Homo sapiens: one gene and its partners. The protein of the gene in region 3 interacts with the protein of the main gene of each other region in a pairwise test. Each region holds a gene or a part of one and is shown on either strand. Other genes may lie near its edges.

Region 1 (3,651 bases), on a different chromosome or scaffold from region 3:
CTGGCAGGGCTGGGAGCGGGAGCAGGTTCATCTCCCAGCACAGCCAAGGGTTGAGCTGCTGTCACAGCCTTGAGGAGGGGACATACAGAGATGGCGGGAGGCGTGATCCCAACATACATCCCCATGATGTGGGAGGTTCTGGAGAGGAGAGTGGCTTGGGGTGCGGAGGAAGGCCCAGGGGAGACTGAAGGTGTTCTTGGGGAGAGGCCCCCAGGGCCAGGCCCTGACTAGAAAAGGGAACCTGGCAGGCAGAAAAAGGGGCACACAGGAGGGAAATGCAGTGACGTATTGGAGAAGGGAGCAGCCCAGGTGGCCTGGGGAGGGCAAGGCCTGAGCCCTGGGTGGCAAACACCAGCTGTAGCCGGTGAGGGAGGGCCTTCCACGCCAGGCAAGGAGTCTAGCCTTTGTCTTCACGTCAGCATAGAGACTTTAGGTCGGGAGTGATATGGAAGATCCGCCTTGGAAACATGACTAGGATGGGGAAACATCACAGGATCGGCCGCAGGGCTGGGGTCGCCCCGTGGAGAGGGGAGGGTGGCATGGGCCCAGGTCCCATCAGGGCTCCCTGCTATGTCTGGGCTTTTTTGACAGGGGCCTCTCCAGGGTGAGTGGTGTGGCTGAGAGGGTAAACACAGAGCTGGGTCTTTCTGAGCCTTAGTTTCCTCACCTGTAAAACCGTGCCTATTCCCCAGGGCTGCCCAAGAGCCCGTGAGATGCGTCCTAGGTGCCCTTTGTGGTGCCTGTCCCTGCTGATGGCACATTCCCAGGGGCTGCCTGTGCTTGGCACGTGGCACTGCCCAGGAAATGTCCCTCAGAGGACTGACTGGCAGCCCTGAGCCCGAGGCTGGTCCGTCTGGCAGGACCTCCTCGGAGGACGCCAGCTCCCCCTTTAGCCTGAAGGGGCCGATCCTGCAGGCCCCATGTCTCCCAGCAGGGCCCGGGACTCACATTTTCCACATTGATGTTGGCCTTCGCGCTGGTCTCCATGAACTTGATTCCATAGTCGAGGGCCAGCTGTGAGAGAGGGAGGCACACGCATGAGCACACCAGCCGCCGGGCGCATCTGAGCTTGCCTAAAACAGGAGCTGAAGGCAGGGCCGGCGCCAAGAGGGAGCAGCAACAGGGCTGGGGCTGTGGGCGTGACTTCCTGGATCACTCCCTCAATTCTATAGTGAATGCCCCTCCACAGGGCCTCACAGGGCATGGAGTTGCTGGGGATGGCAGCTGAGATGGGAGGGTGGCGGGGACCTGCTGGGATCAAACTATGGCTCTGTTCCCCGCTCCTGTGGTCTTGAAAGTCTGGAGCGGGGCCATGGTAGGTTTTGATGAGATGCCCGCAGAGTGCACCCAAGAAGCCCCGGCTGGGTGTGTGCTTCTGTCATCCCATGGCACGTGCCCCACTGGGGTGACCAACTCGTCTCAGGCCCCTGGGGCAGAGGAGGGACAGGGGAAGGCCTCTGCACAAGAACCCCAAGACCCCGAGGCCCTCTGCCCCTTGTGCCACCATGCCCACCTTTTCTCCCCGTTCCTTGGAAACTTGTCTCTTGTCATTCACATCACACTTGTTCCCGAGTATCATCTTTTCGACGTCTGCAGAGGCGTGCTGAGAGGGAGGGGGACAGACGGGGGATCAGACCGGATGACACAGGCCAGGTGCCTCTGCCAACACACAGTCTGTCCCCAGAAATCAGAGCGGTGGGGTCAGGACTGCTAGGTACAGCCTGGTCTAAGGGACAAGCTGAAGCTCAGAGAGGCCAAGCAGCCGGCCCCATGTCACACAGCCAATGCCAGGGCTGGGGCCAGGGTTCTAGCTGCTACTCTGAGCAAATGCACATTTTCTGAAATGCTTTCTGGCAGCTTCTATGGCTGTATCAATCAAGCCCCCGCACCTGGGATGCTGGGCGGGTCTAGCCTATGGGAGGTGAGTGAGGCTGAGATATTTACCCCCCGACCTTGGCTTTCCTCCTTCCCTCCCTGGCTCCTCTGCAAGAGGCCCCAGCTGTTGTCCTGGGACCTTCTGCTTTGACACTTTTTTTTTTGTTTTTTTTTGAGATGGAGTCTCGTTCTGTCTCCCAGGCTGGAGTGTAGTGGCATGATCTCGGCTCACTGCAACCTCTGCCTTCAGGTTCAAGCGATCCTCAACCTCCCGAATAGCTGAGATTACAGGCATCTGCCACCATACCAGGCTAATTTTTTGTATTTTTAGTAGAGACAGAGTTTCGCCATGTTGGCTAGGCTGGTCTCAAACTTCTGACCTCAGGTGATCTGCCCGCCTCAGCCTCCCAAACTGCTGGGATTACAGGCATAAGCCACCTCGCCTGGCCCTGACATTTCAACTATTTTTGGGCTCCAGAAACAGGCCGTGCCTGAGGTGGTCGCAACTCGAGGCCGTCACCAGCTGCAGGCACTTCACCACCCTGTCTGATGTTGCCCAAACTCTGCCCTCATACCCAAAGGCAGCTCCTTCGTCAAGTCTCCCTGGGTCCCCATGGAGCGGACCACGCTTCCTGGAGGACGGGGACACTGGAAACTGCTGTCTTCTTCCACCAGCTCAGACTTGGTCTCTGGAACCTACTGCGCCACTCCCTGCCTCACTTCCCATGAACCAGAAGGTGGCTCCTGCCCGCTGGCCAGAAACAGAGACCTTTCACAAAGACCAGGCTCTCCTCCTCTCCACGGATGAAGACAGCTTTCCCAGCTGGGGTGCAGCCCTGCACTGGCAAATTTGGCAGCACAGCCCTCTCAGGGTCACTGGGGAGGTGAGCCCAGTGCAATGACTCACAAATGATGGGGTGGCCTCTCGGCCTGGCCTGGGAGGTCCATGAGTCCTGGGTGGACAGTGATATGCCCTTTTGCTGTGGTTTTATAGATGGGAAAAGTTCTCTGGCTGTGCCTCAGACCTGAAGCCCCACATGGTTAGTTATAGAAAGCTGCAGGTGCCGGCAGCCAGGAAGGCTTTGGGGGTGAGGTCAGCTCTTTGGGGAGCAGAAGATGAAGATGCTGGCTTTGGGAGGGGAGGAGGGGTTGGCCTACTTCTCACTGCTCTATGGTTCAAGGTCTGAACACAGGTCGTTTGTACCAGGTCACACCCTGCTCCGATATAGCTCAAAGTACAACTGACGCCTGCTCACCACACCCTCCAACTACAAGGGTCACACCTGTGCTAGACCCTTCCTTCTCTAGAAAGCACCCAACACTCATGGTGACCACAAGCTTGGATATCCTTTCTCTTATAACCATGACACTGGCCAGATCCAACAGCCTAGCTGGAGGGATGGGCTCCGAGGGGCTCCGGGGTGGGGCCAGGCCAGTGTGTGGTCCCTGGGGCCGGCTGCTTGCATCTCAGTCCCTGCTCCCACCATGTCCCTGACTAGGAGGCTGTGGGCAAGTGGCCTGTATGTGTCTCTGCACCTTGGCCTTCTCATGAGTAAACCAGAGGGCTCTGGGACAAGGACTGAAGCAGGGACAGTGGGAGGAGCCGGAGGGCCTCACCTCCTCAATGTTGCGAATCCAGTTCCGGATGTTGTCGAAGGACTTCTCGTTGGTGATGTCGTAGACCAGCATGATGCCCTGCGCGGGGAGAGAAGACACAGGTGCCTGATCGGCTGCAGGCTCTGGAAGGGAGGCCTCAGCGGCACCAGAGAACAGTGG
Region 2 (3,651 bases), on a different chromosome or scaffold from region 3:
CTAATGCGATCTTAAAAAAAATTGTAGAGACAGATCTCACTGTGTTGCCCAAGCTAGGCTTGAACTTCTGGGCTTAAACCATCTTCCCACCTTGTCCTCCAAAGGTGTTAGGATTACAGGAGTGAGCCACTGAGCCTGGCCTAAATGTGATCTTAACATTTAATTTTTGCTTATGTTGCTAAACTGCCTGGGGAAAGCTGCTTCATCCTGGTTGGATTTACCAGTACTCCTCCCCCTTGAAGCTATGTCAGAAGGAATCAATTATCTCTTTGATTTTTAACCTAAGGTCAACAACTGTTTTGAATTTATCTTTATGACTGCAACAAGTAAGTGGCATAAGGATGTGCCACCACTACCAAGAGTCAATCTATTGAGAAATCAAGTTATTCCTGTGCCAACAGGTTATTTTAACAAATATCATCTTAAAGTGTTATTTCCCATTCTAATTTCCAAAAAAAAATACATGAACAAGAAATGGGAAGCAACAACAGTTAACTTGTGAGTCAGCAGTATCCTGATTTTCTTCGAAGAGGTTGTGGTTATATTAACTCCTTTCTTGTTTGTTTCCTGTTCTTAACAGCTGTTTGATGATAAAGTGCTTCCAAGAAACAGTACTCCCTCAATTGTTTAAATTGTTTTGATCTACCTAGTGTACTTTTCCCCTAAAATTCATGATGAAATGGTAGAGTAAATCTATCTATATCTCTCTCCCCAAGTTCTGTTTAACTAGATAATTGATTATCCTCAAACTAAATATCCATGTCTATGTGCTGAGGTATTAACACATGATTCAATATGATATTAAGGTAAAAATGGAATAAATAGGCTGAGATAGCTGAAAGACTTGGGCTGCCTGTGTTTCGAGGAGCTATTTAGTTTTTGTTGTTGTTTGTTTTGTTTTGTTTTTTGAGACAGAGTCTCCCTTTGTCACCCAGGCTGTAGTGCAGTGGTGCAATCTCAGCTCACTGCAACCTTCACCTCTGGGGTTCCAGCGATTCTCCTGCCTTAGCCTCCATAGTAGCTGGGATTACAGGCAGGCGCCACCACGCCTGGCTGATTTTTTGTATTTTTTGTGGAAACGGGGTATCACCATCTTGGTCAGGCTGGTCTCAAACTCCTGACCTCAGGTGATCCGCCCACCTCAGCCTCCCAAAGTGCTGGGATTACAGGTGTGAGCCACCACGTCCGGCCTCAAGGAGCTGTTTTCACAGAGACAAACTTGTTCCATTGGTTAAGCAGCTGAAAGGAATGGATTGTCTTCTAGAATTTCCCAAGATAAACCTTTCCTCTTACCAGTGAGGAACAATTTTACAAATAGAAATTAATATTGCTGGTGTGTAGTTTCCCACAGAATATTTTTGTTACATTTTTATGGGGTAACACATGACAAATCCTATTCATGTAGTTTAATAAGCAAAATAAGCCTAAGAGATTGAGCAAAGGTTTGCTGACCAGTGTCCATACCCTACAGGTAAGTATTATTTACTTAATTTTTATAGGCCTGTTATGTGCTAGGCACCATGGTAGGTGTTGGGAATATATTGGGTACAACTTTCAGTTTCTGCTTTTATTTTTGAAATGCTAAATATTTTTCTGAGTATTTGAGATATTTGAAAAAGACACCCAGACAACATCCTGGTGTGTTTTTCAACACACAATAAAAAGGTACGACAAGATAATAGAAAGCTTTTCTGATTATTGAATTTAGGAAAATACATCATTCGCTTTAGAGTGAGTACCAAAGACTTAAGAAAAGTTAAACATTGGGAAATACAGTAAATTAAACATCTAGAAAAGACTTACCAGTTTTCAGCCTTTAGTCATAGCATGCTTTGGTCTCACTTGAGCATTGTAATTCTAGAGTAGTAAGTATTTTCACCATTTGGGCTTGTTGATTGTAATTGTGGGCTCCTTTCTACTATTTCTGTTCTAAACAGAGGGGATTGTTTGGTAAGGTAGGTGTCCCTCTTTTTGTTTATTTTTCCCTCCCAACAGAGAAAGTGCTAAATAAGTAAAGATTATTTTAAATGTTTTTCATTAACTTATAAAAACTGCCTAGATCATTGTTTTCCCAGAGAATTAAAAACCTTACTCCTATATGTAAATGACTTTTTCAAGCAAATAAGTTGGTGTGGAAAAGTCAGCATCTACCATTTTTTTTCTGTGGTAACAAGTGTATCATCAAACATTGAAACCTTTTGGGAATGTTTAAAACCTTCTCTTGAGGGTAAGTAAAAATTCAAACTGGGAAGAGAGTCTTCCAGCCTTGGCAGAGATACAAATTTAGTTTACCTTGTGAAATCTAACACTTCAGGATATTTCCATTGTAATTTTGTCATTACGGAACATAAGGCTTTTTTCTTTGTAACTTTGTGCATCTTTTGAATGTTGACGTAGCAGATAAGATAGCTATAGGACATGACCACATTTTTCTTTTAGAAGACTGGTTGATGTGAATGGCTGACATAATTGATTTTATTTAATAAATATCTTTTAAAGTCACAGATAGTATTGTTTTAAAAATCAAATGGTATAGACGGACTTACTATGAAAAGCATTAGTCATTTTCTGCATTTCACCCTCTTTCCTCTGCTACTGGTTTTGCTCTGTCACCCAGACTGGAGTGCAATGGTGTGACCTCGGCTCGCTGCAACCTCCACCTCCCAGGTTCAAGCGATTCTCCTGCCTCAGCCTCCCAAGTAGCTGGGATTACAGGCGCCTGCCACCACATCCGGCTAATGTTTTTGTATTTTTAGTAGAGACTGGGTTTCACCGTGTTGGCCAGGCTGGTTTTGAACTCCTGACCTCAAGTGATCCGCCCACCTCGGCCTCCCAAAGTGCTAGGATTACAGGCGTGAGCCACCGCGCCCGGCCTAGTGTCAACGACTTTTAACTTTATTTTTAGTACTGCTAGTGATGCTCCGTATCTCTTAAATATGTTACTGCAAAAAGAAAAGAAAAGAACAGAAATATGTTACTGCTGTTTGTTGAATAACTTTAGACATCTATTGACTTGAATGTAAATGAACTAAATACTCGTGTATACCTCTTTCCTTCTATAGTTTTCACTGTTTTGTTGCATTGTTAACCAGTTGATCTTTACCTTACCTCAACTTCTATTTCTTACTCCATCACCAGAGGGAGTATCTCTAGATTTCTTACTTTTAAAATGAGGATATTGGACTCACGTGATTCCTTGGAAAAACTAAAACTAAAGTTCATGGCATATGTTAAAATACGTAGTTGCATAAAAGGGCATTCACCAAGTTCAGTGTTTGAAAACATATGCCGAGCTATATGAGAAGGGCATAGTATAGATATGAAACAAATCAAAAGATTGCATAATTCATTTACGGGACAAGTTATTGAATAGACTTCTTTAAGTGGCTCAGGAATTGTGGCATCAAACTATTGAGAAGGAAATATGAAAGACAGCACACCACCTGACTCTGCTGAATCATGAGTTTAAATATTATTGATTTACTATTATTTACGGTCTAGAATCAACCTCTATCCAAGGGACAGAAAATTTAATTATGAGTCTGTAATAAAGAACATTTTTATTTCTTACCCCACTTCAAATTTTTTAATATAATCCATAGTATGAAATATATTTTCAATCATAACCTGAGATACTATACATGCAACTGA
Region 3 (3,651 bases):
TGTAGAATGCTACTGGTGAAGTAGTTGAGGACTGCCCAGGCACAGTGAGGTAGAAGAGTGCTCAGATAAGGATCATAGAGGAAGTCAGACTCTGACTGAGTTTGAAGCTTGTGGGAAGCCTTTCGAGACCATAAGGAAAGAACTAACACTGCTTTTCTAGCCACAACGTCAAATGCCTAAGGCATTGCTACATTTGTTAGGGGTGAAGAGAGTTGGTTTCCCCTGGGTGTGTCCAGGTAGGGCCACAGAGGGAGAGGTTTGCATTTGCAGATGTCTCAGGGTTCTCTGCATCAGGGCGGTCAATACTCTCTCCCTGACACTGCCTGTTTCCTCTTGCTCCCCAGGCTGGCTGAGCACCTGCGGAGGATCAGAGCGGCTGTGGTGCTCCAGAAACATTACCGCATGCAGAGGGCCCGCCAGGCCTACCAGAGGGTCCGCAGAGCTGCCGTTGTTATCCAGGCCTTCACCCGGGCCATGTTTGTGCGGAGAACCTACCGCCAGGTGAGTAGCCACTCTGAGGGCCTCAGGGCTGCAGATTCAGAACTAAAGTGGCAACAGATGAATTACTGCCAACGTGAACCTCTGTCAAGCACTCCCAACTTTTTTCTAAATGCTTTCACATCTCTGCTCTCACCAAATCCTTTCTGAAGTCCCACAAGGTAGGAAGGGTGTGCATACTGTTGTCTTAGTCCATTAAATGTTGCTATAACAATATCTGAGGCTGGGTGATTTATGAAGAAAAGAGGTTTATTTGGCTCACAATTCTGGTGGCCAGAAAGTTCACAATTGAACATCTGCTTCTGGAGAGGGCCTCAGGCTGCTTCCACTCATGGTGGGAGGTGGAAGCCGGTGTGTGCAGAGGTCGCATGGTGAGAGAGGAAGCACAAGAGTGGCTCTTTTAACAAGCAGCTCTAATGAGAACTAACAGTGAGAAATCACCCTTGAAGAAGGGCATTTATTTGTTCATGAGGGATCTGCCTCTATGACTCAAACATCTCCTGTTAGACTCCATCTCCAACATAGGGGATCAGATTTCAACATGAGTTTTGAAGGGGCCCAGCATCCAATCATGGCAGTTTTCACACCCCTTCTGATACCTGAGTTGCTCAGAGAAGCCAGGTCACCTGCCTGAGGGCCCAGGCCAGCCAACAGCAGGGCCAGGTGACCCACCTAGGGCTCATTCACACTTGAGGGCAGGCGGTGGTATTGGGCATCATCAGGTCTAACTCCTCCACTTAACGGATCAGGAGCTTGAAGCCCAACATGGTGAGGTCAGGAGGGAGGCCCCGACCTCTTCCCTGCCAGGTTCTTGCTCTTTGTGTTGTTCCAGTGAAGCCAAAACCCTTGGGTTCAGGAGCCCCACATCAGGACACATCTGTTCAACCAGGTAACACCAACACATCTGAAGCACAGAGCTGACTTGAAACACGAATTGGAAGGAAATGTCTAAAATGGTTTTCTTTTTCATTAAATGAACATCTGTCTCTTCTATGATCACAGAAGGTGTGATTTTCTAAATAATAAAAGTAAAGCACGAAATTGATAATAATAAAAATGTGGTCAGGGTGGAGCACACCCTGGTGTAGTATGTAGAGAAACCCAGGCCATTGGGAGAAGGTTCTGTGAGTGTTCTTGGGTGATGGGTGGCGTTGGTGTGCTGCTCCCATGGAAGGGGCAGGTGATGTTTGGGAGTTTCTCAGCAGGGGCAGCATGTGCAAAGAGTGAGCACTGATGTGGCTCCCAGCTCTGTCACTCATGGCTGTGGCACTGTTCATTGCTCAGCCTGTTTGCTTGTTTACTCATTTATTCCACAAACATTTATTTTACCAGGTATTAGGGCGAGCACACTGATGATGCTTTCATATCCTGAGTGGTTTTTTAACTTGGTAGAAAAAAAAAAACAGTGAATTACACACCAAGTTTGTAATTATAAGCCATTAGCCTGCTGTGGACACTCACTGAAGTATCTCACTTCCAGCTCAGTGCCACCAGGAGGGGACCTCCACCTGGTAAATGGGTAGAGAGCAAGTGGATGATCATTAGGCCCCTACAACCTTGAGGTTTTCAGACTGTGGTTTCCTAACCCATAAAACAAAAAGTAAAACAAAGCTGAAAAGAGTTTGACAGCTGATTCCCTGTGGATATGTAGGCGCAGAACCTCGCTGAAATGTGTTATAAAACAACCACCAAAGCCTTAGATCTTAGGGGGCACATTGTCTGTGTAACTCCTAGAACCAAGGCTGCCCTGGCCTCTTCCCTCCACAGGCAGTGATGTATGCTTCCTTCACTCCTGTCCTGCAGTGCAAACCCACAAGATGTGTATCCTTGTTTCCCGCCAGGTCCTCATGGAGCACAAGGCCACCACCATCCAGAAGCACGTGCGGGGCTGGATGGCACGCAGGCACTTCCAGCGGCTGCGGGATGCAGCCATTGTCATCCAGTGTGCCTTCCGGATGCTCAAGGCCAGGCGGGAGCTGAAGGCCCTCAGGATTGAGGCCCGCTCAGCAGAGCATCTGAAACGTCTCAACGTGGGCATGGAGAACAAGGTGGTCCAGCTGCAGCGGAAGATCGATGAGCAGGTCAGTGTCTGCAGCTCCCTACCTGGGTGTCGGGGGCTTGGGTACTGGAGCATTTTGAGAGAGCCCACAGCTTCCTTGAGGAACTGCACATGCCGAAGACCCGAGGGAGCACAGACGTCCTCAGACCACAGCAGATACTAACTGTGGCAGGCAGATCAGTGACCCCTAAAGATACCCTCAGCCCTGGGATCTGTGAGTGTGTTACCTTATATGGCAAAAGGGACTTTGCAGATGCAATTAAATTAAGAACTGTAGGATGGGAAGAGTATCCTGGGTGAGCCAGGTGAGCTTGATATAACAGGGGTCCTCCTAAGAGGGAGGCTGGAGGATCAAGTTCAGAGAAGAAGTGATGACAGAATCAGAGGTGGGAGGGATGCAGGCAGCCTTGAGAAGCCAGAGAAGACGAAGACATGGACTCTCCCCTAGAGCGTCCAGAAAGAATGCAGCCGTGCCAACCCCTTCAGACTCCTGACCTCCAGAGCTGTAAGATAATGATTTATGCTATCTTGAGTCATAACTTGGTGGTAACTTGTTGCAGCAGCAATAGGAAACTGACACACTAGCCCAAGGTGCTGGTGTTTTGCCCTTGCAGGGGTGACATAGGGTAATGCAGCAGCAGCTGGTGTGCATGGAGGGCTTGCTGTGTGGGGTATGGGGCTGGCGCTTTGACTGGAGTAGCTTGTCTAATATAGCGGCCCTCCTACGGCAAGTATTACCATCCCCCTTTTTGTACAATTGAAGACACTGGAAGGGCACATGGCATCCTAAAGTCACACAGGTGGCAGTGGCAGGGCCGAGGTTTGAACCCCAGCTGTCTGGCTCCAGAGCCCATGCTCTGCATCACTTTGCCCTTCTGTCTCTCTGTCTGCCTATCTGTCTGTCTGCCTCTTTTGGAAAGAGTGTTTGCTTTGGAAATCAGAATTCAGTTCTTCTGCTTAAAAGTTGAGTGGCTGATGTGACTACTCTGAACCTCTTTTCTTATCCATAAAATGGGGCTGACAGGGCTGAAAGAAGAATAAATGGTCTAATGCATATGCAGGGCCTGGTATGCAGTAGGAGAAACTTGAAAAAT

The links.
Region 1: the proteins of MYO5B (region 3) and RAB8A interact in a two-hybrid assay, tested with the Homo sapiens proteins (one study listed by BioGRID).
Region 2: the proteins of MYO5B (region 3) and BNIP2 interact in binary tests that used the Homo sapiens proteins (3 or more experiments, as listed by UniProt).

What each region holds. Positions count from the first base shown.
Region 1 is NC_000019.10:16,125,389-16,129,039, reverse strand, and holds part of RAB8A (ras-related protein Rab-8A), read right to left. Parts: exon of another isoform or gene 3,571-3,651; coding exon 3,493-3,570; exon of another isoform or gene 2,053-3,492; intron 1,604-2,052; coding exon 1,514-1,603; intron 1,015-1,513; coding exon 949-1,014; intron 1-948. UniProt on the Homo sapiens protein: The small GTPases Rab are key regulators of intracellular membrane trafficking, from the formation of transport vesicles to their fusion with membranes.
Region 2 is NC_000015.10:59,682,758-59,686,408, reverse strand, and holds part of BNIP2 (BCL2/adenovirus E1B 19 kDa protein-interacting protein 2), read left to right. Parts: intron 1-3,651.
Region 3 is NC_000018.10:49,901,522-49,905,172, reverse strand, and holds part of MYO5B (unconventional myosin-Vb), read left to right. Parts: intron 1-344; coding exon 345-501; intron 502-2,339; coding exon 2,340-2,579; intron 2,580-3,651. UniProt on the Homo sapiens protein: May be involved in vesicular trafficking via its association with the CART complex. The CART complex is necessary for efficient transferrin receptor recycling but not for EGFR degradation.